Linked DNA regions of Homo sapiens. The protein of the gene in region 2 binds, or shares a complex with, the protein of the main gene of each other region. Each region holds a gene or a part of one and is shown on either strand. Other genes may lie near its edges.

Region 1 (5,919 bases), on a different chromosome or scaffold from region 2:
GGAGCAGGGAGGGGGAGCGGGGCAGGGGGTGCTGCTCACGGGGAAGGCAGGCCCTCACCACCTCCGCTGGGATTTCAGGAGGTGATCCAGGACTTCCAGGCCTCCGTGCTGCAGGTCTCAGACTCCCCCTACGATGAACAGTGAGTGTGGCTCAGGGCTTTGGGGTGGGAGAGAGGGCAGAACCGGCACTCTTGGGGTGGGCTGGGGGGCTCTGGTGCTGCCCACGCACTGATCCTTCTTGAGCACCCCAGGCAGAGTCCTGCTCCCTTCTGGGTAGGGTGGCTGCACAAATGCCCACAGTGCACTACGAGATGCCCAATGGCTACAATACAGACTACGGCGCCGAGCGACTCCGCATCCCTGAGGGCCTGTTTGATCCCTCGAACGTCAAGGTTTGGCTGTGTGGCGAGGACTGGGGTGGGTGCTGGCTGCAGTCCCTGGATCCTGGGGCGTGGGGGAGGCTGGGAAGGATTGCAGGGGTCTGGGGGGAAGGGGGAGAGAGCCCACAGCCCCAGTCACCTCTCTCTGCAGGGCCTGTCGGGGAACACCATGTTGGGTGTGGGCCACGTGGTGACCACCAGCATCGGCATGTGTGACATTGATATTCGCCCGGTGAGGCCAGGCCGGAGCTGAGGCTCGGCAAAGGGGCCCAGGGGAAGTGGGGAGACGGGGTTGGGGGGCTGCCCCCGCAGCTCACTCCTTCTCCCTGCTCTCAGGGCCTGTACGGGAGTGTCATTGTCACCGGCGGGAACACACTGCTGCAGGGCTTCACTGACAGGCTCAATCGAGAGCTTTCCCAGAAGACCCCACCGGTAGGAGCCCACCCCTGACCCAGAGCCCTGGACACCCGTCCTGGCTCAGCTGTCCAGGACTGAGTCCCTTCATCCTTCCCATGTCCTTCCTTCTGTTCTGGCCACCAGAGCAGAACCCCTGCCCCTGTGGCTTCCCAAGTCTTCCCCTCTCCCCCAAGCCCTGTCCCTTCCCAGAACCTAGGTGTCTGCTTCCCCCAGCCCCTTTTTACCCCCAGAGCATGCGACTGAAACTCATTGCCAGCAACAGCACCATGGAGCGCAAGTTCAGCCCCTGGATCGGGGGTTCCATCCTGGCCTCACTGGTGAGAGGAAAGGGACCTGGCCTAGCACTGACTGTGGGGGAGAGGGGAGACCCAGACAGTGCCCGCCACTTTGACTGCCTCTTCGTTCATTCATTCATTCAACAAACATTTAGTTTTGAGAAATGTCAGTCAATGAATGTTCCCAGAAGGGTGAACAGGACACAAATCGGGGGGCAGGGGCCCGGTATGGTGGCCCACACCTGTCATCCCAGCACTTTGGGTGGCTGAAGTGGGGGGATGGCTTGAGGCTAGGAGTTGAAAACCCAGCAGGGGAACATAGCAAGACCCATCTCTACTTTTACAAACTGGGGAGAAGAGGCTGCGCACAGTGGCTCATGCCGGTAATCCCTGCAGTTTGGGAGGCCGAGACGGGTGGATCACTTGAGCTCAGGAGTTCGAGACCAGCCTGGCCAACATGACGAAACCTTGTCTCTACTAAAAATCCAAAAATTAGCCAGGCATGGTGGTGCATGCCTGTAATCCCAGCTATTCAGGAGGCTGAGGCAGGAGAATCTCTTGAACCCAGGAGACGGAGACTGCAGTGAGCTGAGATCGTGCCACTGCACTCCAGCCTGGGTGACGCAGTAAGACTCTCAAAAAAAAAAAAAAATTGGGAGTAGAGGGACAGGTAGTTGGAGAGATTGGTCAGGATGAGATTTTGGTGATACACCCACTGTGCTCAGTCAGCAGAGGGGAGACCCTGATGTTTTGGGGCAAGGGAGTGATGTGGCAATGCAGGCATGATTGGAAAGACTGCCAGGCATGAGTCTTTGGGGTCGGGGTATGAGCTGGGGTCAAGGGGACCTTACAAGGAGGCTGTTTTGATTGTCCCGGAGTCATAGCATGGGTAGCAGTGGGGATGGGGTGGACAGCAAGGGGCAACTAGTAAAGGAGGCAGGCAGGTTGGTTCTGGGGCAGGAGGTGGTAAGTTCAGTCTGGACCTGCTGCTGGGTTCGAAGGAAGGTACTGAGCAGGGAGCTGGAGTTGCAACCCGCATCTGGAGGGTATCAGTCACACAGAGGGGACAGTGGGGCCATGACAGACAAGGAGGACATCCACGAGAAAGGAAGTCCCCCAGGGAGACAGAAACCAGGGTCAGAAAGACAGAGGCTGGCAGTCTGAACTTAGCTCAGGGCTGAAGCATGTCAGCCACACAGTTCTTGTTTTTTTCCTTTTTTTGTTTTTGTTTTTGTTTTCGAGACAGTCTCACTGTCGCCCAGGCTGGAGTGCAGTGGAGCAATCTTGGCTCACTGCAACCTCCATCTCCTGGGTTCAAGCGATTCTTCTGCCTCAGCCTCCCGAGTAGCTGGGATTACATGCGTGAGCCACCACGCCTGGCTAATTTTTGGATTGTTAATAGAGATGGGGTTTCACCGTGTTGGCTAAGCTTGTCTCAAACTCCTGACCTCAAGTGATCTGCCCATCTTGGCCTCCCAAAGTGCTGGGATTACAGGTGTGAGCCACCATGCCCGGCCTGAAATTAAGTATTAATAATATATCCTGGACAAGTGGAGTGGCTCACACCTGTAATCCCAGCACTTTGAGAGGCCAAGGCGGGAGGATCATTTGAGCCCAAAATTTCTAGACCAGCCTGGGCAACAAAGCGAGACCTCATCTCTACAAAAAATTTAAAAAGCAACTGGCAATGTGGCGCATACCTGTAGTCCCACCTACTTGGGAGGCCAAGGTTGGAGGATCACTGGAACCTGGAAGGTTGAGGCTGCAGTGAGCTGTGCCACTGCATTCCAACCTGGGTGACAGAGCAAGATCCTGTCTCAAAAAAAACCCAAAAAAATTGGGTGTGTATTTTCCACTTAGAGCACGTCTCAATTTGGACCAGGGCTGGTGAGCTACAGGAAGCTAGTGGCCACTGCATTGGACAGCACATGTGTGTAGGCTGAGAAAGATCAAAGAAGCCCAGCCGTGGTAGCTCACGCCTGTAATCCCAACATTATGGGAGGCTGAGGTGGAACGATTACTTGAGCCCAGGAGTTTGAGACCAGGCTGGGCAACATAGTGAGACACCATCTCTACAAAAAATAAAAATTAGGCTGGGCGCGGTGGCTCACGCTTGTAATCCCAGCACTTTGGGAGGCCGAGGCGGGCGGATCATCTGAGGTCAGGAGTTTGAGACCAGCTTGGCCAACATGGCGAAACCCTGTCTCTACTAAAAATACAAAAATTAGCCGGGCGTGTTGGCACGCGCCTGTAATCCCAGCTACCCAGCAGGCTGAAGCAGGAGAATCGCTGGAACCTGGGAGGCGGAGGCTGCAGTGAGCCAAGATCGCACCACTGCATTCCAGCCTGGGCGACAGAGCAAGACTCCATCTCAAAAAAATAAAATAAAAATAAAAATAATTAAAATTAAAATTTTAAAAAAATAGAGAGAAGGGACACTCTGAGATGCTCATTGCAGGAACCCTCAAGGGGCAAGTTGTAATGCCGAAGGCTGCAGATGGGGTGCCACAGTGTTGGAATGGTGAGGTGGAGGGAATATCTTCCTTGGGAAAGAGGGAGACTGGCGGTGTTCCAAAGCCCTGATGGAGTGAGAAGAGGACACCTGGTGGGGAAGGACTGTGTGTGTGTAGGGGGTGTTGAGTGCCAGGTGCAGGTTGCCTGGCCTGGGGCTGTGCGTGCCATCCCCCCAGCTCAGGAACAGGGCCTAGCTCAGGGCAGAGACTGCTGTTCAATAATACTTGTTGAATGAATGAATTATTGATTGAATGATATGAAGAGGATACTCTCCCTCTGAATATGAAAGGGGACAGACCGAGGAGGGGAGGATGAGGTGGGGAGGGGCTTCAGAGGGATGTGAACCCAAGGGGTGGTTGGGGCCTGTTGGAGGATTCCCAGGGGCTGCACCTGCCTGTCCACACCTCCCTCCAAGGCCACCCTGACCCTGATATTACCCCCTCCACCCAGGGCACTTTCCAGCAGATGTGGATCTCCAAGCAGGAATATGAGGAGGGCGGGAAGCAGTGCGTGGAGCGAAAGTGCCCCTGATGGCACTCCTCCCCACACACCTGCTCCCAAGCTCAGATGGAAGTCCCTTAACCCCCATGCCACATTGCCCCCCTCCTCCTTTCCCTCTTGTCCTCATTAATGGTGATGTTTCTGGGTTGAAAGAAGTAAAAATGTTTTAAGAAAAAAAAGTTTGGCCTCCGTGGGGTGGGGAGTGGGCACAGGGGTCTGGAGGGAGGTGAGGGGAGGGAGTCTCACTTCTACACCCATGCCGATCCCACAGTGGGTGCTGGGACACAGCCCCAGGGGCCATGGATTCCTCAGGTTTCCTAGGGGTTGTGACCCAGGGAGGGCCACATGACGAGGACCGGGGGTTGGGGGAGTTGCTGGGGGCTAACAGTTGTGGTGGGAGGTGGGAGGGGCTGCAGGGTGCAGTGGAGGGGCACGGCCTGGGGTGAGTGTGGCAGGAGGTGGGTGGAGCAGGAGGTGAAGCCTGGATGGGCGGAACAGGAGGTGGGGCCTGGTGGGCGGGGCCTCAGCGTAGGCCTTAGGTCTCAGGGGAGCAGCACGCCTGAGCACCCCAGGACCTGCGCTCAGGTGAGATGCGCTATGCCTTCCTTCCTGGGGCTCTTGGTGGTGACAGACATGGGGCGGGGACTAGGGCGCTGGTGCATCCCAGCAGCTCGGAACTTCTCTGGACCTGAGTAGGAGCTGATGTTTCCCAGGGGAAACCCGAAAGGGAAACTTGGTGGGACCCTGAGCCCTCCTCTTCAGAGCTACTTGTCTTGGGGCCCTCGGAAGGGTTTGGGGACCTGCGCCCCCTGCCTGTTTAGCAGTTTATGCCTGTGACATGTTTCTGGGGTGAGGCTAACTGGCCTTTCATCAGCCTCAGAACCCAAAGAGGTAGAAACCCATGTGATCCAAGTCCTTCGGTGACCAAACGGGCCGGTGCCCAGGGAGGACCATGACTTGTCCAGGGTCACCCAGCTCTGCCCACACCTTGGCGGGGACTCTGATCACTCCTCCCCACTGACCCACATATCCCTGACCCCAGGACCCCTATCTGGGAGCTCTCGCTGGTCTCATCTGACCATGTGCTCCCACCTGTGCCCCTCCTTCTCCAGCAGCCAGCAGGAGTCTGAGAACGACCTTTCAAAAGAGACACACATGCACACCACCAGACCAGACCCCCAAGTCACACCACTGTGGTGCCTCCAGCTTAGAATGCCACTGGGGCAAGTGTCAGGACAGGGAGGACAGCTGATATGTCACAGGACCGGGGCACTGGGGGACTCTGAAGGCCAGATGAGGAAGGGGCAGATGTCTTAGGGGTGAATCTTCCACCTGGGCATGGCGGGGCTTAGGAAGGGGTCCCCAGGATCCAGGGAGGGGTAAAAGCAGGAGAGGGGAGGGGGCACCCATGTCTCTGCCCTCCCCCACTATCGGCCCCCTTCCCCCACCCCTGATGGGAACTAGGAGGCCAAAGTCCGCCCCAAGGTCAAAAAATTGATTGTTTTGCAGGGAGGAGGCAGGCGTGGGGCTGTGGAGAGATTGGCAGGGGAGAGCACAGCCCCTTGTGCTCTGGCCTGGACCCGGGGGCCACGTCTGGAAGGCTGGACTGAGGCCAGGACTGTGCCCCCACCCTTGGGGGTGGTGAGGAGCAGCCTTGGTTCAGGCTGCCTGCCAGGACTGATAAGGGGCCCTCCTAGGGCTCCCACAAACGGTTTATCGGTTTATCGCTGGGGGACAGCCTGCAGGCTTCAGGAGGGGACACAAGCATGGAGCGGCTTTGGGGTCTATTCCAGAGAGCGGTAAGACTAGTGGGATTGGGAAGACCCCTTAGG
Region 2 (5,784 bases):
GAGCCCAGAAGGTTTTTGTTTTGTTTTGTTTTGTTTTGTTTTTTGAGACAGAGTCTCCCTCTGTCACCCAGGCTGGAGTGCATTGGCATGATCTTGGCTCACTGCAACCTCCGCCTCCTGGGTTCAAGTGATTCTTGTGCTTCAGCCTCCCGAGTAGCTAGGATTACAGGCACCCGCCACCATGCCTGGCTAATTTTTAATATTTTTAGTAGAGACGGGGGTTTCACCATGTTGGCCAGGCTGGTCTCAAACTCCTGACCTCAGGTGATCTGCCTGCCTTGACCTCCCAAAGTGCTGGGATTACAGGCGTGAGCCACCGCAGCACCCAGCCCCTTGAATCTGGGAGTTTTTGACTAGCCAGGGCAACATAATGAGAGCCCATCTATTAAAAAAAAAATAGGCCAGGCTGGGTGATGTGGCTCACATCTGTAATCCCAGCACTTTGGGAGGCTGGGGCGAGCAGATCATGAGGTCAAGAGATCAAGACCATCCTGGCCAACATGGTGAAACCCCATCTCTATAAAAATACAAAATTTAGCTGGGTGTGGTGGTGCGTGCCTGTAGTTCCAGCTACTCCGGAGGCTGAGGCAGGAGAATCGCTTGAACCCGGGGCTCAGAGGTTGCCATGAGCCAAGATTGCACCACTGCACTCCACCCTGGGTATCAGAGCAAGACTCCGTCTCAAAAAAAAAAAAAAAAAAAAAAGGCTGGGCATAGTTTCGCACCCCATTAGTCCCAGCTACTCGGGAGGCTGAGGTGGGAGGATCGCTGGAGCCTGGGAGGTCAAGGCTGCAGAGTGCACTGTGATGGTGCCACTATGCTGCAGCCTGGGCAACAGAGTGAGACCTTGTTTCAAAAACCAAAACAAGACAAAAGGAGTAGCAAGAGACAGGGGCCAAGGCATGGCAGGTAGTGGGCTGTGTGGTGTGAGTGACGGACACCACCACCTGGGCACCGGTAGCAGGATGAGCTCGCCATAGAGTTGTGGTTAACAGAATGTGGTTTCCCATGGTGGGCTTGTGGGCAATATAGACTCTGGTTGCCTCAGCACAGTAGGTCATGAATTGTGGTTGTCGTGGCATCATGGGTAGTGAAATATGGTTGTCATGGCAACTCAGTATAATGGAATGTAGTTGTGATGGCACCGGGGCCGTGGTTGCAGGGGGCGGGCGCCATGGGTCGTGGCTGCAGGTAGCGGCTGCGGGTGTCTCTGCAGCGGGGCTGTGGAATGACTAAGCCTGGCGCTGCACAGTGCTGTGATGTGAGTAACAGTTTTGTTGCTGGGGCACCAAGTGGAATGGACTTCAGTTGCATGAAACCGAAGTGTGGGGACCCCGTTGTGGAAGGTGGTTGCCATGGCATTGTGGCTGGGAGAGTGTGGTTGCCACGTTGCTGTGGTTAACAGGACCCCTGGCCGTTCTGCTGTGGGTAATGGAAAGTGGCTGTCTCAGCACGGTGGTTAACAGAATGTGGTTGCCACGGTGTTGTGGGTGGTAGAAAGTGGTTGGCACAGCACTGTGGGTAATGGAATGCGGTTGCCATGGCGTTCTGGGGAGCAGAGTGTGGTTGCCATGGTGGTTGTGGTAGGAGACTGTGGTGGCCGGGGGACTGCTGCCGGCCACGTGGTTGCTGGGCAGGTGTGGGGTCAGGCTGTGGATCCCGGCAGCTCATCCTGGCGTCATGAGCCAGGGGTAGGGGCTGAGCTATGGCTCCCCTGCCGGTCAGTGCCCACCAGGGGCACGGTGACCTCCTAACTGCACCCCTGCCCCTTGGCCCCCAGGACACCCCTCGTGTTTACAATTCACGGTGAACATGACGGCAGCCGTGCGGACCTACCGCTGGCAGTGCATCGAGTGCAAATCCTGCAGCCTGTGCGGAACCTCCGAGAACGACGTGAGTGCCGCCCGCCCCCCGCGTGCCCTGCTGCCCGCCCCGCCTGGCACGTCCACCTCTGCCCCTTAAGCCTAAAGCCTGTGCCTGAGCCTTCCCTGGTGAACACCAGTCCCCTGTGTTATCATTATGCCGGTGTCCATAAATCGAACCTGGCCCTTTTTCCTCTTCATCTCTCTGGATCCTCCCAACCACCCTCTGAAGCAGGTGGTCTTGTTTCCACTTCACAGGGAAGAAACTGAGCTCAGAGAGGGAAAGAGACCTGCCCAGGGTCAGCCAGCTAGGGAAATGGCAGAGCTGAGATTTAAAGCCATGACCACTGCTGGCAGAGCTGGTATCAGATCATCTTAGGGTTGTTTAAAGCCTTCCACAGGCGGAGCGCGGTGGCTCACGCCTGGAATCCCAGCACTCTGGGAGGCTGAGGTGGGTGGACCACCTGAGATCAGGAGTTTGAGACCAGCCTGGCCAACGTGGTGAAACCCCATCTCTACAAAAATACAGAAATTAGCTGGGTGCCTGTAATCCCAGCTACTCGGGAGGCTGAGGCAGGAGAATGGCTTGAGCCCAGGAGGTGGAGATTGCAGTGAGCCGAGATGGCGCCACTGCACACTCCAGCCTGGGTGACAGAGCGAGATTCCGTCTCAAAAAAAAAAAAAACAAACAAAAACAAAAGCCATGACCGTTTCTGGCAGAGCTGCTATCAGATCATCTTGGTGTCATTTAAACTTCCCACAGACCGGGAGCGGTGGCCCACCTGTGTAATCCCAGCACTTTGGGAGGCTGAGGAATTTTGAGCCCAGGAGTTCTAGACCAGACCAGCCTGGGCAACATAGTGAGACTCCCGTCTCAAAAAAAAAAAAAAAAAAAAAAAAGTCGTGCATGGTGGCGCACACCTGTAGTCCCAGCTCAGGAGACTGAGGCAGGAGAATCACTTGAGCCCCAAGGAGTGTGAGGCTGCAGTGAGCTGTGACTGCACCACCGCACTTCCAGCCTGGGCAACAGGGTAGGACCCTGTCTCTAAAAATATAAAATAATAATAATAATAAGCCTTCCACAGAGCCTTATAAAACCCCCACTATAAATCGCAAAGGGACTGTCCTGAGGGATATGTGTTTGGCTAAGCAGTGTTGCGCACACATTTCCTGCTGCAAAGACCTTCTCAGAACCTTTCTCGGAAGGCCTCACCTCCCCCAGCCCCCTTGACCTAGCCCCTGCCCCAGCCCCCCACCCCCGTTTCTGGTGCCCGTGCCCCCAGGGTGCCAGCTGGGCGGGTCTCACCCCCCAGGACCAGCTGCTGTTTTGTGATGACTGCGATCGGGGTTACCACATGTACTGCCTGAGTCCCCCCATGGCGGAGCCCCCGGAAGGTGAGAGGAGAGGTGGGCATCCCATGGGGCGGGTGGGTGGGAACGCCATCTCCTGGTTGTGGAAGACTGTGTGTCCTCGGGGTGGGAAGGGGCTGGGGCAGCCCTCCCGGACCCGGGCCTGACTTCAGCTTCGGCTGCCCCCGCAGGGAGCTGGAGCTGTCACCTCTGTCTCCGGCACCTGAAGGAAAAGGCTTCTGCTTACATCACCCTCACCTAGGCCGGCTCGGCTCGCCGCGACTCTGGGGTGGTGCTCGCCTACCTGCCTCTCCGAGCTCCTCAATTCTCCCCCACCCTGAACATCCCGCAGGGGGAGGGGGAGAGGGGGAAGCCGAGAGGGGGCTGGGCCACCCCCTCCCCTCTGTGCAAGTGGAATGTCTGCCCTGTGGGTGGGTGGGCCCGGCCAGGGCCTCTCCCTCCCTCCCTCCCTCTCTGTCCCTTGGCAAATGGACACCAGGGGCTTCTCCCCTCAAAGCCATACCCCGCCTCTGGGCGGGCATGGGGGGTGGTGGGTGCCAGCCAGGGGCATGGACAGAGCCTTTTTCTAAAGAAAAAGACAAAAAGTTAAAAAAAAAAAAAAGAAGAAAAGAAAAGAAGTTAATATATACAAAGAGTCCTCCAAGGCCTGGCTGGGTGGAGGGGCGCTGCTGAGAGTGTCCACCGGGCACCCGCCTCTGCCGGCCCCCCGCCGGGCGCCCCAACCCCAATTTCTGGAGCTGCAGCCGTCCCGCGCCCCACCCAAGGTGGGCGCCTTCCCCTCTTGTGCCCAGGGCGGTGGGCGTGGTGTCCACCCGCCCCTCCTGGTGCCCACGGTGGATACTGCATGATGTGAACCTTGGTTTTGAACTCTGTTCCTGCCCCTCCCCGACCGCCCCAGCCTGTGCCCGCCCCGTGCCTGCCGTGGCTGGTGGGTGGCGGTGGTGGGGCCGGGTGGGCCCCCGCCCAGCGCCTGCTGGAATGAGAAGCACAGACTCCGCCACGGACTCCTTTTCTCTCCCTCCTCCCGCCCCGCCAGGCCTGGCGGCCCCCGCCCCCCTCGCTGGCCATTTTGGGGGAGTGAGGGGGCGTGGTTGTTTCTTGTGGTTGTGTGTGTTTGTTGTTCGGGTTTTAAAAAAGGGAAACTGAGACTGCAGGTGGGGGAGGTGGTGGGTTTTGGGGGGATGTCCCCTAATCCAGGAGTGCCCCCTCACTTGTCACCGAGTCTCCTCTATTGCCTGCCTCTGCTGTGAATTAACTTGTTCTGTGTATTAAACTGGGCCTGACCCCTCTGCCCACGACTGCCTCGTTCTCCCGTCTGGTTTGGGGCATCACCAAGAAGGAGGACCGGGGGTCGACGGGCCTTGTTGGGGGTGAGGCGACCAGCCAGCCCCTACCTCCATCCACCTCCTTCTTCCCCTGCCTGCACCCTGCCTCTCCCCGGCTTTGTCCCAGCTCCGCCCTGCTTTGCCAGAAAGGAGGAGAAGGGGGATGGGGTGGAGGGGCTCCCGCCCAGCCAGCTGTGGTTGCCCTGGCAACGGGCTGCTGCAGCTGCAGCGGGCGCAGCCGGGAGGGAGGCGGGAGCCGGGCCGGGGGAAGGGAAGGGCTGGGAAGAGGACGGTGGGTTGGCCCCTCCTGAGGCTGGGGTGGGGAACGGGGGTGTCAGGAGGTGTCATCCCAGACCCAGACATCTCCAGGGGGCTCCGTGTCCTGGATGTGGGGCAAATCAGCGGTGGCGATAAGGTGGAAAGAGAGGCGCTAAGGGAGGGCAGGAGGGTATCTAGACACGGGCACTGGGAGAGAGACTGAGATGTGGGCGACGGGTGGGGGGCGGGAGTGAGGAGTGAGGGAACTAGGACACAGATCAGGAGAGAGAAAGAGACGAGGACAGTCACACAGTTATTGAGAGAATCAGAAAAAAGAGCAAGAGGGTGCAGAAGGGAGAGAGACAGGAGGAAGGACCAGGAGAGAGGAAGGGAGCAGGGGTGAGAAGGAGGTTTAACGGCAGAGAGGGAATAACTAATAAAAAATAGCTGACATGCTGGGAGAGACGGGAGGAGGAGAAGGAGGACGGTGATTGGGGAAGAGCAGCAGCAGATTTAGGGAGAGGTCCTCCAAGAGGGGAGGCAGAGAAGGAGGTAACATCTATCAGGAGAGGGAAGAGTGAGAGGGAGCCACATTGCGGGTGGAGAGAGAGAGACTTGGGATCAGGGGCAGGCAAAGTCCCAGGACAACAGGCAGAGATGGGGAGAGACGCGGGCGGCAGGGGAGAGAAGGAGACAGACTTTAGGGGAACAGCAGAACAATCTGCAGAGAGAGCCGGAGGTATGAGGGACCCAGAAAGATTGGGGAGGAGAGACAGGGATGTCCGAGACGGGCAGAGGAAGCTGGAAACTGGGACACGAAGGGAAGGGCCGGGCCTCAAAGCACAGTTTGGGCGCGACCAGGGGCTGGCGTGCGCGCGAGTTGTGGGGTGCTGGAAGCAGCTGGCGTGGCTCCGGCGCCAGGAGAGGATGTGAGAACAGCCTGTTCCCAGGCTTCCCGCCCCCTTCGC
Region 3 (8,705 bases), on a different chromosome or scaffold from region 2:
AACTAAGAAGGCCAGGTGGAACCACCCACCCCCATTACCTAGGGCTGACTTTGCAGCAGCAGAGGCGACTCGGGGATCGACGACAGAGGCCAGGAAGGCAACAGTGCTCATAACAGGGTTGCCCGACTGACTGAAGGGGATGGGTTGGTAGGCCAGGGGGCCTAGGGAGGCCTCTGAGTCCTCCAGGTATGGGTCTTCAATGGGAAGACGAAGAAAATGCAAGATGCACTCGTCCTGTGTGCGGCTTCCCACATGCTCGGACACTTTGTTCCAGTCATCTTTGTACATTTCCAGTGCCTGGTGGTAGTGGTGGAGACATAACTCCGCTTACTTAGCCACTTTTCTCGAAGGCTGACTCCCCCCATCCTACTAAGGGCAGCTGGTTTCAAAGTTCTCTATGTTCTGGTATTTGTGTACTCTGCTAGGTCCAAGGGGGATCTTGAAGTAGCACTAAGAAAGGATATGAAGTTAATGAAATGGCCCAAATCCCCAGCCTGGAGCTGGTCCTGAAGCTCACTGGAGCCTTGACCTCCTAGGCTCAAGCAATCCTCCCACTTAGCCTCCTGAGTAGCTGGGACCACAGGTGTGTGCCACCACACCTGGCTAATTTTTAAAATTTTTCGTAGAGACGGAGTCTCACTATGTTGCCCAGGTTCATCTCGAACTCCTGGACTCAAGTGATCCTCCTGCCTTGGCCTCCCAAAGTGCTGGGATTACAGGCGTGAGCCTCTACACGGAGCCCACTTCTGTTTTCAGAGAAAAACTCTCTTTTCTTTGCCCCAATTACCTCCAGGAGAAGCAGGGTTTCCTGTTCTGTCCACTCACGAGTGGCACTGGCTGCAGCCTTGCTCTGCAGGGGAAACACAGGCAGGTGAGAAGAAAGGAGCCTGTGACCTCTGAGGAGCGAACATTCTCTACCCCTAGAGTCGGCCCGCACCTCCTACCTTGGAGGGAACATTCTTTTTTGTGTACATGTCTGTGCGCAGCCCAAAGTTTTGCATGTCTGTTGGTTTCTCTTTGCCTTTGTCAGGAAAGTTGAGCATTTGTTGGGAAGCAGAGGTCTGCTATTTGTGGAGGGAAAGAAACAGGTGAGTACAAGTGACCACCGGGAGCCAGGGGCTGACAGAGAGAAAAAACAGACAGAAGGAGCTTCTTTCCCAAAGCCAGGGACACCCCTGGGTGGGACTTCCTCCCTTACTGCTGTAGTTCCTCTGCTCTCATGTCTCTTCTTCCCGGGCAGGGGCCCCCCAATAAAGGGGAAAATGAGCAGCCCAGCAGGGTCTGCACCCCACCTACCAGCTCTGGCTTGCCCTTAGCCGTCTCTGGCACCAGGTCATCCAGCTCTTTGCCCTTTCGCCCAGCCTTGGTATCAGCATCAACCTGGCGGCCCTGGGGGACAGAGCTTGGCGTCATGGAGGCTGGGCAGGAAATGACCAGGCCAAGGCCCTGGAGGCCTCAAGACCATATGCTGGGCGGCCCACAAGCTCTGGGGGCACTCATGCCACTGTTCCATGTTCCCTTCATGATTAATAAGACATGTCGTTGGCATGATATCCATACATATTCACATTATCTTTATAGGTTCTCTTAGGAGCTGGACAATTAGGTTCTAATCCTAGATTTGGTACTCTGTGACCTTGGGCAAGCCACATAACCTTCTTCCTAATTTTTGTAATGGATGAAGTGGAAATGGAAAAAAAAATGAAGATGATAATTATGAGGCAAAAATGAAAAAATGTGGCAAAGATGACAAAGTTTAAAAATTTCATGCAAGTTAATTTTAAGCCATTTTTCTCTATTGACTCCCCTACATTAGCCTGTCTACTCCTTGAGTAAAAGGATAATCTCTTCTCCCTCAGCAATTACAGCCTTAGGTACAAAGGCTGAGAGAGGATGCTAAACACATGGGGCTGATTCCCGTGACCCTTTGCATCCCATGGAAAAGGAAGAAGCCTCAAAACACTCCTGAACCATTACCCTAAAAACCAGAAAAAGAAAAGTTCAAAGAAGCCCAATCTTCCCAACCCGCCCCATCCCCATAGCACCTCACCCTACCTGAGGTGTCTTGGGCTGCAGAGGCACCAGCCCTGATGGTGTGTCAGCCAAGACATGGAAGTGAGAGGTAGGCGGAGGCCCCATTGGGGTTGGTCGACTCTCAGCATCCACCTGGTAGTTAATAAGACCCCACTGTTCTAGGAAGGCATGGACCCTGTGCAGAGAGAGGCAGAGACAGGGTCACACGGATAGCCAGAAAGGTGCACGAGGAAGAGGAAAAGTGGGGGGTAGAAGGGGCATAAACCCCCTCCCCACCCAACCCCGGCCTTTTCCTCTGTTCATTGTACTCCTTAAGAAATCTCACCTACTCCAGTTGTTCATTTATCACCTAAATGCCAGTGACACCCAAGTCTACATCTTCAGCCTGGGCCAATCTCTATATCTACCTACCTACCGAACATTTCTTCCTGAATAGCTAGTAAAACTGAACCAGTTTCTTTCTTTTTTTCCCTAAGAGAGACTGAAGTGCAGTGGTGTGATCACCGCTCACTGCAGCCTCCACCTCCAGGGCTCAGGGGATCCTCCCACCTCAGCCTCCTGAGTCACTAAGACCACAGGCACGTGCCACCATGCCTAGCTAATTTTTTTGCATTTTCTCTAGAGATGGGGTTTTGCCATTTTGTCCAGGCTGGTCTCGAACTTCTGGGCTCCAGCAATCCTCCCACCTTGGTCTCCCAAAATGTTTGGATTATAGGCATGAGCCACCACACCTGGCCTGAACCAGTATCTTTCAATTACAGACATGCTCCTTCTTTGTCCTATATTCTACACTTCAGAGAATGCCATTGCTAATCCCTCAAGTCATTCATTCCCCAAACCTGTACTTCACCTTTCTCTAGAGGTGCTTTTTTCTGTCTGCTCCTCTGTGTTCCTTGCTGGCATCTCTACTGTTGCCAAAACACATCCATAGGCAGGCATCCTCATGTACCCCCTTCCCCTCAGCCACAAGACCCACCTCATGATGGCACAGACATCACCCGCTAGGTTTCGGCGGCAGGCGGTAGAGGTAAGATACTCTTGGGGGTTCAGTCGGTAAGTGTCAATCATAAAGTTTCGATAGGCCAGGTAGCTTAGAAGAAAGAGAGAGAGAAACAAGAAGAAGAAAAATAAATGTTTGTTAAAGGGCTAAAGGAAAAAATGGTAAGAGAGCTAATGACTTCTCCTGCATGATAAAGATGGAAAAAAGTAGATTATTTGACTCTACATGCTGAGTGCCTGCTATGTGCTAGATGAAAGGGTTTCAAATATGTCTTACTTTTCCTTGATGGGGTTTTCTTTAAATGAATTATCTCCTTGGCTATACTTAGGGATATTTCATACAATTTTTTTTTTTGAGATGGAGTTTCCCTCTTGTTGCCCAGGCTGGAATGCAATGGCATGATCTTGGCTCATGGCAACTTCCGCCTCCTGGGTTCAAGAGATTCTCCTGCCTCAGCCTCCTCAGTAGCTCTGATTACAGGCATGTGCCACCACGGCCGGCTAATTTTGTATTTTTAGTAGAGACAGGGTTTCTCCATGTTGGTCAGGCTGGTCTCAAACTCCTGACCTCAGGTGAGCCTCCTGCCTCAGCCTCCCAAAGTGCTGGGATTACAGGCATGAGCCACTGCACCTAGCCATTTTATACAATTTTTAAACAAGGAATTAGAAGTTAAGAAAATACTCATTTCCAAACTCAGATGTTAAAAGGAAGTCCTTATTCATGCATATAGCTAGTCAGCATACCACGGTAAAAAACATATGTTTTGAAGTTGAAAAGATCTAAGTTCAAATCCCAGTTCTACCATGAGGACCTTGGCAATTTACTTCGAATTTTTAAACCTCAGTTTCCTCATTTGTAAAATGGAATGTCTGTTGAGAGGTCTATAAAGTACTAGTATAGTGCCTGGCGCATTGTAGGGGCTCAAAAAAATGGCAGCTATCATGTGGTACAGTGTAAAGTTTCAGATCATGGGCCAGATTAAAGGATTCAGATCCTGGTTTTATTTACTAGCTCTGTGACTTTATGCAGGTGACTTGACTCCTCTATACCCTATCTGTCAACTGAAGATGATATCTACCTCTAAGGTTGACGTAAAGATTAAATTACTCAATGTAGGTTGGACATTTAGTATAGTGCCTGGGAGATACTAAGCTCTCAATAGATGCAGGCAATTATCATCATTTACTATTTTTTTTTTTCTGAGATGGAGTTTCACTCTTGTTGCCCAGGCTGGAGTACAATGATGAGATCTTGGCTCACTGCAACCTCCACCTCCCGGGCTCAAGTGATTCTCCTGCCTCAGCCTCCCAAGTAGCTGGGATTACAGGTGCGTGCCTCCACACCCAGCTAATTTTTGTATTTTTAGTAGAGACGGGGTTTCACCATGTTGGCCTGGCTGGTCTCGAACTCCTGACCTCGTGATCTGCCCGCCTGGGCCTCCCAAAGTGCTGGAATTACAGGCGTGAGCCACCATGCCCAGCCATCATTTACTATTTTATACCAAGAGTTCAGTTCCTACTCCAACCCTGCCTGCATGTCATGTTGAATTCATTTCACCTGATCACTACTTTCTTTTCACACATACTGCTTTCTCCAGGAAGAGAAGGAAGAGAGAACCATAGCAAGCTATGAAGAAAAAACACGGAGGGACCCCCAGAGAGGGGAAGCTGTGGAATAGCTGGGAAGAAAACTTGTTCAGTTCTCAGTCTCACCCACCTCATCAATGTGGTTATCTTGAAGTATTCCTAACCAAAGAAGACTGCCATGTCTTATCCAAAGCCAAGCAGGTTTGGCCTGAGGCAAAATCTTTTTTTTTTTCTTGAGACGGAGTCTTGCTCTGTCGCCCAGGCTGGAGTGCAGTGGCGCAATCTCGGCTCACTGCAAGCTCTGTCTCCCAGGTTCATGCCATTCTCCTGCCTCAGCCTCCCAAGTAGCTGGAACTACAGGCGCCTGCCACCACGCCCAGCTAATTTTTTTTTTTTTTGAGACGGAGTCTCGCTCTGTCACCCCGGCTGGAGTGCAGTGGCGTGATCTCGGCTCACTGCAACCTCTGCCTCTCAGGTTCAAGTGATTCTCCTGCCTCAGCCTCCAGACTAGCTGGGACTACAGATGCATGCCACCACGCCCGGCTAATTTTTTTTGTTTTTGTTTTTTTGTTTTTTTTGAGACGGAGTTTCACTCTTGTTGCCCAGGCTGGAGTGCAATGGCGTAATCTCGGCTCACTGCAACCTCCGCCTCCCGGGTTCAAGCGATTCTCCTGCCTCAGCCTCCCTAGTAGTTGGGATTACAGGCACGTGCCACCACGCCCAGCTAGTTTTGTATTTTTAGTAGAGACGGGGTTTCTCCATGTTGGTCAGGCTGAGCTCGAACTCCTGACCTCGGGTGATCCGCCCGCCTCAGCCTCCCGAATTGCTGGGATTACAGGCATGAGCCACCGCGCCTGGTCTTTTTAGTAGAGATGGGGTTTCATCATGTTAGCCAGCATGGTCGCGATCTCCTGACCTTGTGATCCGCCCGCCTCGGCCTCCCAAAGTGCTGGGATTACAGGCGTGAGCCACCACACCCAGCCTTGTTCATTAATTTTTTTAGATACGGGGTCTTGCCGTGTCAGCCAGGCTGGAGAGCAGTGGTGTGATCATGGCTCACTGCAGCCTCAAACTCCTGGGCTCAAGCAATCTTCCCATTTCAGCTTCCGAAGTAGCTGGGACCACAGGTATGCCCCACCAGGCCCAGCTAATTTTTTTTCACTTCTTTAGAGATGGGAGTCTTGCTATGTTGCTCATGCTATTCTTGAACTCCTGGCCTCAAGGAATCCTTCTGTCTCAGTGTCCCAAGTAGCTGGGATGATTTACAGTCGTGAGCCACCGTGGCTCCTACACTTCTTTCCCAGTGAGCCCTCTCCATCCCTTAATTTATATAAACTGGTCTTCTATTAGTTCCTTCTCTTGTTTTTCTATTAAAACCTACTCTCAGGAACCAGCCTGGTAATAGTAATTTACACTTTAATCAAAACTTTTGTGCTAGGAATATCTGCAGTATAGACGATATCAGTAATATGGATTTAAAGGCTCTATACCCTGTTAAAAAGAAGTTGAGGCACTGGAGTAGGTACTTGTTATGTATAGAACATGCTTAATATCACCCTTGGGCAAATCCTAAAGAACATGTGTCTACATGCTAGGCCAGGGCTGCCTAAAGGCAGATATTGTGCCTTTGTAAGCCTAGCATAGTGCCTGGCTCATGGAAGATGCTCAAGAAATGTTTGCTAAACTGAATGTTACTGGATCAGGAAGGGTGAATGTGGGGACAGGAGGGAGAAGGAGAATCATGAGATGAGATTTCCTTACATCTCTGGAGTCTTGGACTTGTTCTTGCCGTTGAAGAACTCGGGGAGAGCCCTCCGCTCAATGGCATGAACACTGCAAGAAAAGCCAGAATGGTTTCAGAAGAAGGCATTGGTGAAGGGATGGGGGCCCCAAAGGGAGGAAAAGCCTAGAAGGCAAAGAAGGAAAAGAGCTCGAAATTGCTGAAGTTAGAAGCTTGGGGAGAACATCCCACAGGCTGTAAGACTCAAAAGGACACAAGGAGCTCCCCTAAAACTAAAGTGTACTCTGGTCTATTTGGGTGAGGAAAAAATAACTTATTTGGAGGAGGCAGGGAGAAGAACAGCCTGTTGACCCCTGGAGGCAGGGAAATAAGGACTCAGTGAGAAGTTGGGGACAACCATACCTATTGTAGTCAAACCAGGCAGCGTAGCTGGGAATGATGATGTGGTGGGTCTGTTCAGTCACATTGTCCTCATGCAGGTCTGGATTCTTGGTCTGCTCTCCCTTGTTCCCCGTACTGTTCTCATCCTCATCCTACGAGTATGGAGGCTGCTGGACACTCAGCATTCCTGCTTCCTCCCTAGCAACCCTCTGCTTCTCCCACACCCCAGGAATGTGGACACTAAAGATGGGTGATGGGACTGAGCAGTCATGGGCCCCAGGACTCTGAAAGGGTCAGAGTTTTGAACAAAGCTGGAATTAGTCTACAGTGGGTAAAGTCTGGGCAGTGAAAAGTTTGGGCAGAATGAACTTTATAATCACAAATCAGAATCACATAGAGAGGTAGGGCCTCTCTAAACTGGCTCCACCTTGCCCGTCGTCTCCATGCTTTCATCTTCCTGTTCATCTGAAAGAGAAAAACCAAGATGTAAGGCTGGAGCCTCCTGAGGGGCAAGAAAGCCCTACCAAAAGCCCATCAGGCTAGCGAAAAGGGGGCAGCTGAGCCCTCCCCTTCCCTTGGCTCTGACTGCCGTGCCCAAGAGGCTCCTGTCTTACCCAGGTCGGTCATGGTGCCGCCTTTGACTGGGGCCGACTCTGAGTCTTTCTTTGTGTTGACTGCGAAAACAGAGAGTCATTTTATCAGACAGATTTTGCCTAATTCAAGCCTTCAATTTAATAGTTCCAGACATCCTACTTTCTCCAAAAATTGTCTCCACCTGATTGCAAAATATAGTAATTCTCTCCAGTCACAATTATTCTAGGGCTTCAAACTTCTTGCTACTTTCCCCACTTCTCCAACCAAAAATTAATTTAACTTATTTCTCTATGTACATTCATAAATGATTCTTGTCTTTGACAGGCCTTTATCTCCATCTATGTATCTGTAAGCTTTTAATGGTCTGATACTGAATCTGACCAAATCACTCTGTGGAAGAATGGTTAAGTGTTAAACATTTTTGAAAGCAGAGGATACTTTCCTCAACTGAATTCATATACATATGCTCAGGAGCAAACATAGAGAAGAGAGAGAGCTGATTGATGAGGAGGTAGAAGCCAGAACTCTTCTTGGTGGCAGCCCTAATCCTACCCCTGAAATACACTTCTGGAATACCTGGGGTGAGTCTACAGAATACAGACTGTAAACCAGTATTGGTGGAGCAATGTCTCCAAAGTGGGGTTCTAACATAGGACGCAAAAGATGATCCACTGCAACTCAGGGAGAGAATACAGAACTTCTCTTCATGTTTTTTGTTTTGTTTTTTTGAGACGGAGTCTCGCTCTGTCGCCCAGGCTGGAGTGCAGTGGTGCGATCTCGGCTCACTGCAACCTCCACCTCCCAGATTCAAGTGATTCTCCTGCCTCAGCCTCCCGAATAGCTAGGATTACAGGCGCCCACCACCACGCCTGGCAAATTTTTGTATTTTTCGTAAAGATGGGGTTTCACCGTGTTAGCCAGGATGGTCTTGATCTCTTGACCTCGTGATCCGCCTGCCTCGGCCTCCCAAAGTGCTGGGATTACAGGCGTAAGCCACCGCGCCCTGATTCTTCATGTTTGTTTTTATCATTCTTTACATTTTTCAATTTTTTAGATATGTTTGTGTTTTAAAACGTTCCCATGGTAGCGGCTTAACAGTACAAGTACATAATTAATGCATATATACATTTTTTTTTCTTTTTTTTTATTTGAGATGGAGTCTCGCCCTGTTGCCCAGGCTGGAGTGCAGTGGCGTGATCTCAGCTCACTGCAAGCTCCGCCTCCCAGGTTCACGCCATTCTCCTGCCTCAGCCTCCTGAGTAGCTAGGACTACAGGCACCCGCCACCACGCTCAGCTAATTTTTTTGTATTTTTGGTATAGACAGGGTTTCACCATGTTAGCCAGGATGGTCTCGATCTCCTGACCTCG
Region 4 (9,067 bases), on a different chromosome or scaffold from region 2:
ACCTCAGCCTCCCAAAGTGCTGGGATTACAGGCATAAGCCACGACGCCCCGCCTATTATTTCTTATTCTCAATTATATTTGAAAGATCAGTAAGTTGTTAAACGATTTAGTGATCAAGAACAGTCCCCACAAAAAAGGTCTACTGATCATAGATTCATACAGGCAGCTAACAGCACGCTAGAAACAACGAAAACCAAAATGAATTAAAAGACAAAAATTATGAGGAAAGATATGACAGACAATTCCTAAAAAGCTAGTATTTGTAAAATCAGAGTTCGAAAATATAAATAAAGGAGTATAAGATAGCAGAGGCTGGGCACAGTGGCTCCCACTTGTAATCCCAGTGCTCTGGGAGGCCGAGGTAGGGAAATCACTTGAGTTCAAGACCAGCGGGGCCAACACAGTGAAACCCCATATCTACTAAAAATACAAAAATTAGCCAGGTGCGGTGGGTGGTGCATGCCTGTAGTCCCAGCTACTCAGGAGGCTGAGGCAGGAGAATCGCTTGAACCCGGGAGGCAGAGGTTGCAGTGAGCCAAGATCACTCCACTGCACTCCAGCCTGGGCGACAGAACAAGACTGTATCTCAAAAAATAACATGATATAATATAACATAACATAACATATCATAACATAAAAATAAAGGCTGGGTGTGGTGGCTCACACCTGTACTCCCGGCACTTTGGGAGGCCGAGGTGGGTGGATCACTTGAGGCTGCGAGTTCAAGACCAGCCTGGCCAACATGGTGAAACCATGTGTCTACTAAAAATACAAAAATTAGCTGGGTGTGGTGGCGCGCACCTGTAATCCTAGCTATTCGGGAGTCTTGAGGCACAAGAATCGCTGCAGGTTGCAGTGAGCCGAAATCACACCACTGCACTCTAGCCTGGGTGACAGAGCGAGACTCTGTCTCATAAATAAATTAATTAAATAAAATAAAGATAGCAGAGAAGGGCTGGTGTGGTGGCTCGCACCAGTAATCAAAGAGCTTTCAGAGGCCAATGCAGAAGGATCGCCTTCCCGCCAAAAATTTGAGACCAGCCTGGGCAACACAGCAAGATCCCATCACTACAGAAATTTAAAAGTCACCCATATGCGCGTGGTAGCACATGCTAGTAGTCCCAGCCTCTTGGGAACCTGAGGTGGGAAGATGGCTAGAGCCGGGAGATCAAGGCTGCAGTGCGCTGTGATCAAACCACTGCACTCCAGCCTGGGCAACAGAACAAGATCCTGTCTGTAAAAACAAAAATAAAACACACAATTGCAAGGACACCAAAATTATATTCTCACACAACTTCAGAAGGTATCTCACCTACAAAATATAAAAAATTCCATAAATTCTATTTATGGCATAAGAGCTGCATCAGGAGAAAGCATGGAGAAGACTCGGTACGGCGAGAGGATAGGGAACTGCAACATAGTAAAATATTGTTAGGTCTTCACAATGACTGCTGCAATATTTAATGCAAATGTTAAATGCCTCTTCAAAAAGCAGCTTCCTACAGTTAAAAAATAGTAATATTCTATAACTAAAATTTGTTTTTTGCTTTTTTTTTTTAAATTCTACACGCTAGCAGCAGCAAAGGAAAAAAGCTGGATGCTACACCTAAAAGTATACAGCAACTGAGGATGCCCAAATAACAGTAAGCTGATGTACTTACAGGGAGTTTGGTGAAGGCCGGGTTGGTGACATGCTTCCCAAAGGCATCTTCCTGGAACTGAAGAAGCTGCACCACCAGCCCAGCCAGTGTTTTATTGGTAGGAGCATCCGCATGAACATACTGCAAGATAAAGACAGGCATTCAAAAACTAGTACAATTTTTGCAGGAGAAAATGTTGGCTTACTTCCTAGTACCTACTAAGTACTTACGTTATGGGAAATTTATAGATGTCTGAGACACGCTCTGTGCTATAAAGGAGCTTACAAAAACAAATATGTGTGTGCATTTAAAAATGGTTAAGACGGTTAATTTTTTTTTTCTTTTCTTTGAGACGGAGCTTCGGTCTTGTCACCCAGGCTGGAGTGCAGCGGTGCAATCTCGGCTCACTGCAACCTCTGCCTCCCGGGTTCAAGTCATTCTCCTGCCTCAGTCTCCAGAGTAGCTGGGATTACAGGTATGAGCCACTACCCCCAACTACTTTTGTATTTTTAGTAGAGACGGGGTTTCACCACATTGGATAGGCTAGCCTCAAACTCCTGACCTCATGTGACCTGCCCCTGCCTCGACCTCACAAAGATAAATCTCCTGTGTTTTTTACCAAAAAAAAAAAAAAAAAGTGAAATATTATCCATATTAATGTAAAGAATGTCAAAAGCCCAAACCAGTAGTAGACACATCAGCTAGGAAGCTTCACAGCAAGGAAAAATAATGGGTAACACAACAAGAAAAGAATAAATTAGTGAGTTAAATGTAAAAGTTTTATTTGGCAATTACATGTTCAATATCACTTTGAGTAGCCAATACTCTCAAAAAATTTTTTTTCTTTTTTTTTGAGACAGAGTCTTGTTTTTCACCCAGGTTGGAGTGCAATGGCATCATCTCAGCTCACTGCAACCTCCGCCTCCAGAGTTCAAGCGATTCTCCTCCCTCAGCCTCCCTAGCAGCTGGGACTACAGGCGCGCAACCACCATGCCCGGCTAATTTTGTTTGTATTTTTAGTAGAGACGGGGTTTCACTATGTTGGCCAGGCTGGTCTTTAACTTCTGACCTCATGATCCGCCCACTTCGGCCACCCAAAGCGCTAGGATTACAGGCGTGAGCCACCACACTCAGCCTCAAAAAGTATTTTTAAACCTCCAATTCCAAGCAAGAAAAACATCTATACCTGCCTTTCAGTTGGACGAGAGAATTTTTATTTTTTTATTTTTTTTTGCCGGAGCTAACTTTCGAACTACCATCCAACATTTCAAGGTTAATGTGGTATGTCTCTATTACAATAAATATTTTTTAGATGAGTGGTGTATGGTCAAAATTACATCAACTGCAAAGTCTACAATTATTATGCATAGGACAAAGGGCACACAATTTCTGCTACTACCATTGAAACTTACTTACAGCATATAAAAAGGCAATCATTTACTTTTTTTTTTTTTTTTTTGAGATGGGGTCTTCTTCCATCACTTAGCCTGAAATGACGAAACCCCGTCTCCACTAAAAAACAAATACAAAAAATTAGCTGGGTGTGGTGGCGCACACCTGTCCCCATGCACTCCAGCCTGGGTGACAGAGCCAGACTCCGTCTCAAATAATTAATTTTAAAAACTTTTTTTGTGTGTGTGTTTTTGGAGTCTCGCTCTGTCACCCAGGCTGGAGCACAGTGGCGCAATCTCTGCTCAGTGCAAGCTCTGCCTTCTGGGTTCACATCGTTCTCCTGCCTCAGCCTCCCAATAAACTGGGACTACAGGCACCCACCACCATTCCCGGCTAATTTTTTGTATTTTTAGTAGAGACGGGGTTTCACCATGTTAGCCAGGATGGTCTCGATCTCCTGACCTCGTGATCCACCCGCCTCAGCCTCCCAAAGTGCTGGGATTACAGTACTGTGCCCAGCCAATTTTAAAAACTTTAAAAACTACATACTACTTTCCCCTTCCTTATACTATATTGATAATTTGCAACAAAAACTAGCAAGCCTAGTTTTTGAAGGACCATATACTTTTTTTTTTCAAGACAGTGGTTTCTTGCTGTCTCCCAGGATGGAATACAGTGGTGTAATGACAGCCACCGCAGCCTCAATCTCCTGGGCTCAAGTGATCCTCCTCCTCCACCTCCCAGAGAGCTAGGACTACAGAGGCGTGCCAACACATCTGGCTGATTTTTAATTTTCTGTACACAACCGTTTTCACCAACTTCTCTGGGCTAGTCTAGAACTCCTGGGTTCAAGTGATTCTCTCACTTTGGCCTCCCAAAAAGTACTGGGATTAGAGGCATAAGGTACTGCACCTGGCCCATATACTTTCAAGTGAAAATTTGAAGTCAGTTTTTCTCCAATATACTCAACATAGTACTTTTTTTTTTTTTTTTGAGACAGTCTCACTCTGTTGCCCAGGCTGGAGTGCAGTGGTGCGATCTTGGCTCACTGCAAGCTCTGCCCCCCAGGTTCACAACATTCTCCTGTCTCAGCCTCCCGAGTAGCTGGGACTACAGGCGCCCACCACCACGCCTGGCTAATTTTTTGTATTTTTAGTAGAGACGGGGTTTCACCATGTTAGTCAGGATGGTCTCGATCTCCTGACCTCGTGATTCGCCTGCCTCGGCCTCCCAAAGTGCTGGGATTACAGGTGTGAGCCACCGCGCCCAGCCCCGTAAATTTTTAATAAACGGTATTCAAGGGCCAGGCGCGGTGGTGGCTCACACCTGGAATCCCAGCACTTTGGGAGGCCGAGGCGGGCGAATCACGAGGTCAGGAGATCAAGACCAACCTGACTAAAGCAGTGAAACCCCGTCTCTACTAAAAATACAAAAACTAGCCGTGCATGGTGGCACTTGCCTGTAGTCCCAGCTACTCAGGCGGCTGAGGGAGGAGAATCGCTTGAACCCAGGAGGCGCAGGCTGTAGCGAACCCAGATCGCGATCGTGCCACCGCACTCCAGCCTGGGTGCACTCCAGCCTGGGTGACAGAGCGAGACTCACTCTCAAAAAATATAAAATAAAATAAACTTTGAAATAGACCTGCTATGTACCCACAAAAATTAAAAATTAAAACTCTGGCCGGATGCAGTGACTCATGCCTGTAATCCCAGCACTTTAGGAGGGCAAGGTGGACAGATCACTTGAGGTCAGGAGTTCAAGACCAGCCTGGCCAACATAGTGAAACCCCGTCTCTACTAAAAATACAAAAATGAGCCAGGCATGGTGGTGCATGCCTATAATCCCAGCTGCTTGGGAGGCTGAGGCAGGAGAATGGCTTGAATCCGGGAGGCGGAGGTTGCAGTGAGCCGAAAGTGCGCCACTGCACTCAAGCCTGGGTGACAAAGCGAGACTCCGTCTCAAACGAGAAAAAAAAAAATACTTCAAGTGTATCTTACAAAACTGACAAAATACATTGTACTTATCCGCAAGGTAACTTCATAATCTTTAATAAGCACAGGTTTCCTAAAGGAGTCATATAATGTACTGCACTTTTTTTGTACACGGTAAAGCAACATAAAAAAATAATGACCGGCTGTGCACGGAGGATCACACCCATAATCTCAGAACTTTGGGAGGCCGCGGCGGGTGGACCACTTGAGGTCAGGAGTTTGAGACGAGCCTGGCCAACATGGCCAAACTCCATCTCTACTAAAAAAATACAAAAACTACCCAGGCAGAGTGGCACACACCTGTAATTCCAGCTACTCAGGAGGCTGAGGCAGGAAAATTGCTTGAACCCAGGAGACAGAGGTTGCAGCAAGCCAAGAGCGTGCCACGCACTCCAGCCTGGGTGACCCAGTGAGACTGTCTCAAAAATAATAACTACAATCTGTATTTTACAGATTAACTAAACAATGCCAAACTCTATAGCTGAAAAAGACAATGTCCTTGAAAAAGGCTGTTCAGATGGAACCAAATCAACATTTCAGGTAAATATACATATATATGTAAACATATATGTAAATATATAGATGTAAATATATATATATTTTTTCTTTTTTTTAAACCGAGTTTTGATCTTGTTGCCCAGGCTGAAGTAAAATGGCGCGATCTCAGCTCAGCACAACCTCCGCCTCCCGGGTTCAAGCAATTCTCCTCCCTTAGCCTACCGAGTACCTGGGATTACAGGCATGCGTCACCACATCTGGCTAATTTTGTATTTTTAGTAGAGATGGGGTTTCTCCATGTTGGCCAGGCTGGTCTCGAACTCCCAACCTCAGATGATCCGCCTGCCTCGGTCTCCCAAAGTGCTGGGATTATAGGCGTGAGCCACTACACCTGGCCTCAGGTAAATATTTATTTTTTTTTTTTTGAGAGAGTCTTGCTCTGTCACCTAGGCTGGAGTGCAGTGGCGTAATCTCGGCTCACTTGCAGCCTCTGCCCACCGGGTTCCAGCGATTCTCCTGCCTCAGCCTCCTGGGTAGCTGGGATTACAGGCGCACGCCACCACGCCTGGCTAATTTTTGTATTTTTGGTAGAGACGGGGTTGCACCATGTTGGCCAGGCTGGTCTCAAACTCCCGACCTCAGGTGATCTGCCCGCCTTGGCCTCCCAAAGTGCTGGGATTACAGGCGTGAGACACCATGCCCGGCCTATATTTTTAATAACTACAGTGAATATAGGCCGGGTGCAGTGGCTCATGACTGTAATCCCAGTACTTTGGGAGGACGAGGTTAGAGGACTACTTTGAGTCCAGAAATTTGAGACCAGTCTGGGCAACACAGTAAGACCCTGTCTCTATTTATGTATTTATTTTTTGAGACACTTTCGCTCTGTAGCCTAGGCTGGAGTGCAATGGCCCGATCTCAGCTCACTACAACCTCCACCTCCCAGGTTTGAGTGATTCTCCTGCCTCAGTCTCCTGAGTAGCTGGGACTACAGTCATGTGCCACCACACCCGGCTAATTTTTGCATTTTTAGTAGAGCAGAAGTTTCACCACATTGGCCAGGCTGGTCTCGAACTCCTGACCTCAGGTGATCCACCGGCCTCGGTCTCCCAAGGTGCTGGGATTACAGGTGTGAGCCACAGCCCCCAGTCTCAGTCCAATTTTTAATAAACTATAAAATATTTAATTCTGATTAGATTTTTTTTCCAAATCATCCTACCAAATTACCAAACATGAAAATGCATGTAGGCCAGGCACAGTGGCTCATGCCTGTAATCCCAGTACTTTGGGAGGCTGAGGCTGGCGGATCACCTGAGGTCAGGAGTTCAAGCCCAGCCTGGCCAACATGGTGAAACCCCAGCTCTACTAAAAATAACAAAAATTAGCAGAGCGTGGTGGCGGGTGCCTGTAATCCCAGCTACTCAAGAGGCTGGGGTAGAAGAATCACTTCAACTTGGGAGGCCGAGGTCACACCACTGCACTCCAGCTTGGGCAGAAGAGCGAGACTCCATCTCAAAAAAAAAAAACAAAAAACAAAAAACAAAAAAAACACTGACTCCTAATTAAGAAATTTTAATTTCTATGTCATAAACAATTAATCTGGTTTTTTTTTGTTTTTGTTTTTTGTTTTGTTTTGTTTCGTTTTGTTTTGAGACAAGGTCTCGCTCTGTTGCCCAGGCTGGAGTGCAATGGTGCCAACACAGTTCACCGCAGCCTCGACCTCCTAGGCTCAAGTGATCCTCCAAGGACCCTGCCTCAGCCAAGTAGCTGGGACTACACGTGCATGCCACCACAACTGATGTATTTTTTTGTTTTGTTTTGTTTTGAGACAGGGTCTCATCATGTTGCCCAAGCTGGTCTCCAAATCCTGGGCTCAAATGAACCTCCCACCTGGAATTCCCAAGTGCTGGGATTACGGACGCAAGCCACTGCACCTGGCCCAATTAATCTTTTGATCAAAAAAAGTCTATTATATTTTATTTAAGAAAACAAAAATTTATTAGTCTCAAAATATTTCAAGTAAGAGTCAGTGTGGGCCAAGTGTGGTGGCTCACACTTGTAAGCCCTGCACTTTGGGAGGCTGAGGCAGGCAGAGAGCCCAGGAGTTCGAGACCAGCCTGGGCAACACTGCAAAACCCTGCCTCTACTGATAATACAAAAAATTAACCAGGTGTGGTGGTTCGTGCCTGTAGTCCCAGGTACTCAGGAGGCTGAGGTGGGAGAATCACCTGAGCCCAGGAGGTTGAGGCTGCAGTGTGCTATGATCTCACCACTGCACTCCAGCCTGGGCAACACAGAAAGACCCTGTCTCAAAAAAAAAAGAAAATTCCTAAATGAAGTCTCAGGTATCTTCCATTTGAAAAAGAAGGTAAATAATATCTATCATTTAGGACTGCTATGAGGACTTTAAGTGAGTTATACTTTAAGTACCCGGCACATGGTAAATGCTCAGTTGTTCACTGAATGCATGAGCTGAATGCAAGAGTTTGAGGTTGCAGTGAGCTATGATCACGCCACTGTACTCCAGCCTGGGCAACACAGAAAGACCCTGTCTCAAAAAAATAAAGTAAAATAAAAATAAATAAAAAATGACACTAACAAAATCATGTTTACTGAGACTGAAACTGTTGTCTGCTCTGAAAATGCAGTATTAAATGCACTAGAAACGGTTAGTTAAAACCAATGCGTACACCAAATAGAAATGCACTGTGTAGAAAAGAAGCAAAGAACTTTGTGATAATATTTTCACCACTTCAACGCTAACACCCAGAGACTGAAAAGATTCTGGCTGTCAGGCCTAGGGTATATACGTTTCTCAATCTCAGTAGACCCTAGAAATACACTCTGGCTTTACAAAGTCCTGAGAAGTCAAAGGTAACTTTGTCTATAAAGTCTCAGGGATAGTGAATCAACATTAGCCTAGTGGTCTCAATACTGCTGGGCAATTCCTCAAACTGCTTTGTAGCCACTTCCCTACCCACCCAAACAAATATCGAAGGATTATCCATGTCTAAAGCTTCTTGTAGTTGATCCCAAACTGATGCACACTGAACAGTGCGGAGAGGTAGAAATTACTGAAATTTGCCTTTTTCTACTCTCTTCCTTGATATTATTCAAAGGAATATGCCTGTAGATTATTTTTCTTTGTTAAAGCTTCACTGAATTTAAGACCCAAAGCATTGGCTAAAAGGAATGTAATAAAGAAGAATTAACCAATATTTTCATAACATATTCAATTCCATTAGCCACTTCTGGAAGCTCTATTACTTACATTTAAAAAGTGACCAATTTATCACTGTGTAAGAAAGGGCAATATTACTAAAAATCTACAGTCTAAATGTAATTTCAGAGGAGGAAAAGTCCAGACACCTAAAAATATAATTACTGTCTCTCACTTCCTCAAACTTCAGATAAGAAATGTAATTTTTCTAGCTGACCTTCAAAAACAAGAAAGAAAGAAATGATCATTTCTGGGTCTTTGGTTTTTTTTTGTTTTTTTTTTTTTTTTTTTTTTGGAGACAGTCTTACTTTATTACCTAGGCTGGA

Evidence for each region.
Region 1: DPF1 (region 2) and ACTL6B share a complex: the UniProt entries of both Homo sapiens proteins name them as parts of the neuron-specific chromatin remodeling complex.
Region 3: DPF1 (region 2) and SMARCC2 share a complex: the UniProt entries of both Homo sapiens proteins name them as parts of the neuron-specific chromatin remodeling complex.
Region 4: DPF1 (region 2) and SMARCC1 share a complex: the UniProt entries of both Homo sapiens proteins name them as parts of the neuron-specific chromatin remodeling complex.

The regions. Positions count from the first base shown.
Region 1 is NC_000007.14:100,641,444-100,647,362, reverse strand, and holds the end of ACTL6B (actin-like protein 6B), read left to right. Parts: intron 1-78; coding exon 79-140; intron 141-277; coding exon 278-392; intron 393-531; coding exon 532-612; intron 613-716; coding exon 717-812; intron 813-1,010; exon of another isoform or gene 1,011-1,027; coding exon 1,028-1,114; intron 1,115-4,036; coding exon 4,037-4,117; 3' UTR 4,118-4,266; downstream 4,267-5,919. Other genes in the region: TFR2 (transferrin receptor protein 2), read left to right, coding at 5,854-5,886. UniProt on the Homo sapiens protein: Involved in transcriptional activation and repression of select genes by chromatin remodeling (alteration of DNA-nucleosome topology).
Region 2 is NC_000019.10:38,209,753-38,215,536, reverse strand, and holds the end of DPF1 (zinc finger protein neuro-d4), read left to right. Parts: intron 1-1,780; coding exon 1,781-1,893; intron 1,894-3,145; coding exon of another isoform or gene 3,146-3,175; coding exon 3,176-3,257; intron 3,258-3,403; coding exon 3,404-3,474; 3' UTR 3,475-4,531; downstream 4,532-5,784. UniProt on the Homo sapiens protein: May have an important role in developing neurons by participating in regulation of cell survival, possibly as a neurospecific transcription factor. Belongs to the neuron-specific chromatin remodeling complex (nBAF complex).
Region 3 is NC_000012.12:56,171,641-56,180,345, forward strand, and holds part of SMARCC2 (SWI/SNF complex subunit SMARCC2), read right to left. Parts: intron 7,417-8,705; coding exon 7,357-7,416; intron 7,208-7,356; coding exon 7,170-7,207; intron 6,895-7,169; coding exon 6,764-6,894; intron 6,454-6,763; coding exon 6,382-6,453; intron 3,125-6,381; coding exon 3,011-3,124; intron 2,210-3,010; coding exon 2,056-2,209; intron 1,390-2,055; coding exon 1,297-1,389; intron 1,065-1,296; coding exon 945-1,064; intron 851-944; coding exon 788-850; intron 298-787; coding exon 39-297; intron 1-38. UniProt on the Homo sapiens protein: Involved in transcriptional activation and repression of select genes by chromatin remodeling (alteration of DNA-nucleosome topology).
Region 4 is NC_000003.12:47,771,156-47,780,222, forward strand, and holds part of SMARCC1 (SWI/SNF complex subunit SMARCC1), read right to left. Parts: intron 1,782-9,067; coding exon 1,662-1,781; intron 1-1,661. UniProt on the Homo sapiens protein: Involved in transcriptional activation and repression of select genes by chromatin remodeling (alteration of DNA-nucleosome topology).